Homo sapiens: one gene and its partner. The protein of the gene in region 1 purifies or fractionates together with the protein of each later gene. This does not show direct contact. Each region holds a gene or a part of one and is shown on either strand. Other genes may lie near its edges.

What was found.
Region 2: the proteins of EHMT1 (region 1) and PRDM6 purify together in Homo sapiens (affinity purification with western blotting, with the first as the bait; one study listed by BioGRID). This does not show direct contact.

Annotation. Positions count from the first base shown.
Region 1 is NC_000009.12:137,810,683-137,814,504, reverse strand, and holds part of EHMT1 (histone-lysine N-methyltransferase EHMT1), read right to left. Parts: intron 3,045-3,822; coding exon 2,890-3,044; intron 1,500-2,889; coding exon 1,332-1,499; intron 1,120-1,331; coding exon 975-1,119; intron 75-974; coding exon 1-74. UniProt on the Homo sapiens protein: Histone methyltransferase that specifically mono- and dimethylates 'Lys-9' of histone H3 (H3K9me1 and H3K9me2, respectively) in euchromatin.
Region 2 is NC_000005.10:123,192,234-123,194,818, reverse strand, and holds the end of PRDM6 (putative histone-lysine N-methyltransferase PRDM6), read right to left. Parts: 3' UTR 553-2,585; downstream 1-552. UniProt on the Homo sapiens protein: Putative histone methyltransferase that acts as a transcriptional repressor of smooth muscle gene expression.

The DNA of each region.
Region 1 (3,822 bases):
TCGTACCAGCAGCGCATGCTGAGCTGGCCGCACATGCAGTTGCTGGAGGAGCAGTCGTCGATGCACACGCAGTACTGAGAAGAGAGGCGCCGGGGGGTCAGACGTGCAGGCACAGGCCTTCCATTTCCCCTCCCAGTCACAACTACGTCTTCCAGTTCTGTTAACCCTGATTCTGGTAAGTGCTTCTCAAAGGCACCACGTGAGTGTGTGGCCTCTTAGGGAGAAGGCTGTGCAGGCAGAAACATGTCGAGTGCCTGTGGGAGGGAGCTCTGGCTGAGGACCCTGACAGAGGGACAGGGGGCAGGCAGGGCAGCGACGCGGCAGTGGGTGACGTGGGGTGGGTGAAGGGCTGGGCGGCGGCTGCATTTGTGGCCAGATGCTCGATGGGAAAGGCAAGAACACAGAGCCTGACACACCTTGTGGGGCGGGGGGCGGGGGGGGGGGGGGGCCTGGGCAGTGCCCGGCCTGGGAAGAGGAGGGAGCTGCCCACAAGCAGAGCCACAAGGAAAGTGCTCGAGAAGGCGCAAGCAGTGAGGGCACCAGGCTGCATGCACTCGGAGGCTGGGAAAGCTGGCATGTGCTGGACCCATCTCTCCGGGGGCTGGGAGGTGCAGGGATCCAGGTCGTCCTGCAGGCCTCGCAAGGGCTCCTCTCGCCTGTGCCCCCAGCACGAAGCCACACCGGGGCCCCTGAGTGTGAGGTTACAAAAAAGGCACAAAGATGCCTGCCACTGCTTTGGGTCGGTAAGAAGCCTTGGAAGAGCAATGAGAGGGCCCAGGGCTGGGCCTGACAGAACCTTTATCTGCCTTCCAGCTCTTTCACGGGAGGCAACTACAAAGAGAATGAGGTCTTCCTGGGAAGCCCCCCATAAGCCCTCCTGCTCTGAGTGGTGAGAACCCAGGACCCCAGGCTCAAGAAGCTTCTGCCTGTCCCATGTCCTGGCCTGAGTCAGCCCTTCATCTGCCGTCACTCACCTGCAGATGAGTGATATTTCTGTCGATGTTCATGGGGGACGTCACGCAGTTCTGAGAGACGTACTTGTAGTTGCTGGGGCATGGCTCGCTGTCCACGGCGTTGACACAGGGGATGGGGATGCGCTCGTAGCCTCGAGCGATGTCCCTGCCATGGAAAGGACAGGTGTCACCTGGTGGCTGACGTGCTCTGCCCAGGGGGTGGCACAGCGTGCAGTGGGGCGGCTGGCAAACACCTGGCCCTGACAATTTGGACTGCAGCCTGGGGATGTTTCGGCTTCAGGAGCAGCTTTCACCGCAAGTTCCCAAAGCCCTGCTGACCGCTGATTTGCCACAAAGCCGTCCTGGGGCTGGGCTCACCTGCTCACTATCCTCTCCACGGGGCTGGGCCTGTCGGGGGCCGAGTCCTGCAGAGCCTTGCTCATCTGCAGAGCGCTCCACACCTGAGAGTTGAGGCTCGCACACTGCAGGGGCGTCTCTCCTTCCTTGTTCTTTAAGGTGACATCTGAATCCCGAGAAAGAAAGAGGCTAAAAGGGAAAATGTAAGGCCACAAAACATTTAAAGCTGACTTGAAAATGTGATACAGATGAGATTTATAAAATGTCCGTCATCACTAACAATAAAGGGAACACTATTCACTGTGAGATAACTTGAACAAGTCTGCTCAGCAATGACTCTGCAAAGACGGGCTTTAGCTCACCCAGGAACATGATTCCCTTCCTCCTCTCCCACATTCACTGTCAAAGTCAGCAGGCTGTTTTCTTAGCAGGAAGAGTGTAAAATCCAGGGCGGCATTTGATTTTTCTTGGATTTTTCATTCAAATTTACCCTCAAGGATAAGAAGGGAAGCAAGGAGGGAGAGAGGCCAAGCTTGGGCCACGCACAGCGTGAGCAGTCCTCAGTTCCACTCCTGCTCACTGCATCCAGACTGCAGTCATCGTACGTGGAGCTGGGCTTCACACAACCAGATGACCAACCTGGCTGAGCCACCGTGAGATCCACATGTGGGAGGGCACAGCCCCATGTGTAGGGGCCAGGGAGTCACTGGAGGCTGGTGCCTGGAGCACCCACAGTTCCCTGTCCTTCCCCAGCAGCCAAACACACACTCCATCCCAGGCCACCAACAACAACCTGAGTGTGGATGACTTTATGGGATCAAGGTCTCAAGCTTTTTTTGTTTTTTGGGTTTTTTTTGAGACAGAATCTCACTCTGTCGCCCAGGTTGGAGTGTAGCGTCGCAATCTCCACTCACTGCAATCTCTTGCCTCCTGGGTTCAAGCGATTCGCCTGCCTCAGCCTCTGGAGTAGCTGGGGTTACAGGCACATGCCACCATGGCCGGCTAATTTTTGTATTTTAGTAGAGATGGGGTTTCACCATGTTGGCCAGGCTAGTCTCAAACTCCTGACCTCAGGTGATCTGCCTGCCTCAGCCTCCCAAAGTGCTGGGATTACAGGCGTGAGCCACCACCACCCAGCTGAAGGTCTCAAGTTTTAAAAGGGCCCTGAGTGGCGAGTGCCACAGCCCCCAGCAACTCCAGCCCTGGCTGTGGGTGGCACTGCTCCCAGAAGGCACCCTGAGCCTCTCGGGGACTCTGAGCTGGCAGGTCCCTGCTGGGAGCAGGGCTGTTCCCATGCTGCCCCTCAGCCATGTGAGGAGTATCAGGTCTGAGACTCCAACTTGGGAATTTTTTCATGACAATCCTCCCTAACCCAGAAATAAACCACAGCTGATCTCAAACGTGGACTGGGAAAGACACTTCTCTGCGTGTGGAACACCAAGGATGGACTTCCACACGAAGGAACAGAGGGCCTGTGTCCACTCACGCCCCAAGTGTGAACACAAGACTGTCAAGCGGTCTCTCTGGGCGCCCAGGTCAGGTCAGCGCCAGCCCGCGCTGGGGGAAGCACTGCACTCACACGACACAGTCGTAGCGGTTCTCCCGGGCGGCAATGTGCAGTGGCGAGTCTCCGTGGATGTTCACGGCGTGGAGGTCGCACTTGGCAGCCAGCAGGATCTCGGCTATGTCCACGCAGCCGGAGAACGCCGCCCAGTGCAGGCAAATGTTCTCCTCCTGAACAGACACAAGCCAGAGCTCAGTGCAGGCTTCCTGCTGGCTCACAGTGCTGGGGCTGGGCCACAGCAGCTGCAGCCCATGTGCCCGGGGAGAGGCTCTGGAGCATGCGTGGCCGTCCGCAGCAGGGCCAGGTGGAAAGGGTGCCACAGGTCACCGGATGGGAACCTAGCGCCCATCTCAACTCTGGAAGGCACTTCGTTTCATGTTTTGTTTGTTTCATTGTAAAAATAACATAATTATAAAAGTAGCATAATCACAGTAAAGAATAAAAATAGGGAAAAGGTCATCCAGAATTATATCAACCTACACTCAACATATTAACACTTGGAGGCACTTTTCTTTCATGTATTTTTAAAAATTATATTCATTTCCAAGCAGGGGTATAGTCATAGGATAGGATAATGCTTTTGAAAGATTTGAAAAAAGGACGTGCAAATTTGATTAAATTAAAATTTTGGGCCGGGCATGGTGGCTCACGCCTGTAATCCCAGCATTTTGGGAGGCAAAGGCAGGTAGATCACCTGAGGTCAGGAGTTCGAGACCAGCCTGGCCAACATGGTGAAACCCCGTTTCTACTAAAAATACAAAAAATGAGCCGGGCGTGGTGGTGGGCACCTGTAATCCCAGCTACTTGCGAGGCTGAGGCAGGAGAATTGCTTGAACCCGGGAGGCAGAGGGTTACAGTGAGCCGAGAACGTGCCACTGCACTCCAGCCTAGGCAACAAGAGCGAAACTCTGTCTCAAAAAAAAAAACAAAAAATTTTACTTTAAAAAA
Region 2 (2,585 bases), on another chromosome or scaffold:
TCCTGCAATTTCCACCTCTTTCAATCCACTCCAGCATCAGTGTCCTTCTTGCTATTCCTACATGCTCACATATTTTTTCTAAGTGAAATTTTATTTTCCAACAGAACAAGAGACAAACAGCTGACTTTGGCTTTCTTTCTGAGAGCCCCCAATCACATACATTCAGAAGAGTCATAGCCCCAGGCCACTCTCCGGGCAAGTGCTTTCTGCTGTGCTCCAAAGCTTATGGGGTTAGAGGTCAAATATCAAGTCCAGCCTGCCACAGATTTGTGGCTGGGTCTCTGCGCACAGTTTCCTTAAGAAGCTGTGCACCTGACTTGGTTGGGCAAATGAGCATGTGAGCACATGAATAAGGAAAACAGTAATCTCAAATGCATCCGAATAAACCTCAGGGCTGAATTTTAACAACCTTCCTGCTTGCTAGGTGTATTTTCTAGCTTATACTTCCCCAACAAGAGTTTGTTGACTGCCTACTACCTAAGCTGCACACTAGAATCAGATGGTGCTTGAAAAATGACTGTGGGACTGGAAAAGACAGAATCCAAGGGAAGATCGAGTCATCATAAAAACGTTTTATTAATCAAATATATTTACATTTCTTGGTCAATGATCTCTAAATGTGTACCTGTTTTTTCATTTAAATACAACTTAATCCTGGTAGATTCCATCACAAGAATACAGCAGCATGCATGATCTCATTGGTCCTTTGCAGTTATTTTTTCATTAAATAATGTGAGTTTAATAAAGTTAGAAAACTTTATTAAGTTTTACCCATTCTTACTGTGGGATAATCATTCTTGTCATATCAGTGGCCCTTACAGCAAACTACACACTCCTTATCACCCACAGTGAGATTCTTCTCATTCTCTTAACTGACTTGTTTAAGCTTTCCAAACTCCAAAAGGCAGATGTGAAACTGGGCATTCACTCTAACCATTTTATTTGGTGGAAAGTTGGAGAGAGACATATTTCTATTCCAGTAGGGAACATTTACAGTCCTAAACTTAAAATAACCACATTAAAGAAATGTATACAATGTCCTAATAGCATCTAAATATCACACTTCTATTAGCATCCTACAGAACTGGATGTCTTCCCCTTGATATAAAAAAAATAATTAACTTGGGACATTAAGTTTCCAAAATAATTTTGCTGATCTGAGCCAAAGTTTTCCTTAATTCGTTAGTCATCACCTTAGCCTCTGCATTTAAACTGGGGGAAGGCTTTTTCATGAAATACTTAGAACTGCTAAGGAGAATAATTTTGCCTCTGGCTTTTGCTATACATTTTCTCCAGGTTGGGAGAAACTAGAGAAGTGTACTAGATTGTTCAGAGAAAGTAAGTCTACAAGTGCTGATTTTGTTAACATTAGACAATGCCCACATGTGGATCAACAGGGACTGTGGGTTGGCAGACTTTTGCTCTAAGATGGCTGCTTTCCCCAACATGTGGCAATCACCTGATACGGCATAATTGCTTTTAAACATGAAAGAGTTGTGCTGTAGAAATAGATCTCCAGCTTGTTAAAGTTTATATCTAGACTGTTTTCAGTTGGGAGTGATGTACCAAAGTGGGAGAAAGGCACCAACAAGGATGTTTTTCAAGGCAGGAAACAGGAGATATCAACCAGGACCCACCATGTTTGACAAGGAAAATATATTTATCATTTCAACAAACAAATGTGCCCATTAGAATCAGAATCTGGAGGAAAGTAGTATACATTGTGGTTTCAATAAACCACGGTAAAGAGTTGTAATAAAGCCAGTTCATGATGAAATTTTGTACACTTACTTTTTGAACAAACCTCACAGTTTCATCTAGATTGTGCCCCAGAACTTGAACTGGTTCCTTGAGTACCTCATGCATGTAACTACACTATCTGTGCCTTTGACAAACCAAACCTATAATGACTCCAGTCTTTCTGCTGCACTGCTTTAAACCAACAGGCTAACAACATAAGCCCATATTCTTAATGCACACAACTGCGTAATGACTCCATTGATGCCTGGAAAGTAACTCACTTAGCATTCAGTCAGAACAAAGAAAGAAAACGAGATTTCACTTAGCCCCGTTGAGGATGTGTTTTTACCTGTCGATAGTGTTCGAACCTTATTCTCTTCTGGCCACCCTCCAACACAACCTGCCCTTCCTGCCTGTTGCCATTTGTCCTAATGTATATCACACTTGAGAGGGTTATTTTTTTTTCTTTCAATGTGGAATTTTAGATTCCTGCTTAGAAAAACAAAAACAATGCCTGACAGCAATGGAATAGTTGAAATTCTGTCCAGCAATGAGATTTGGGCATGACAAAATCAGCATCTATAATGATACGTGTTTTAATAGCACTTCAGTATTGTTTCCACAAACACATTTTATAAATAAATTATACTTGTGTTTATTAATTTTTAAAAGCTCTTGTTCTCAAAAAAAAGCTTTACATAGAGAAGTATTTTCCTCTTTTAACAATTGCCTGTTTATGGCTTTGAAGGAGGAAAAAAACTAAAGAAGCTACAAAGCTAAAACTGTTAAGCATATATGAGAAGGGGATAATGATAGTATCTTTGTTATAGAGTTACTAAGGATTA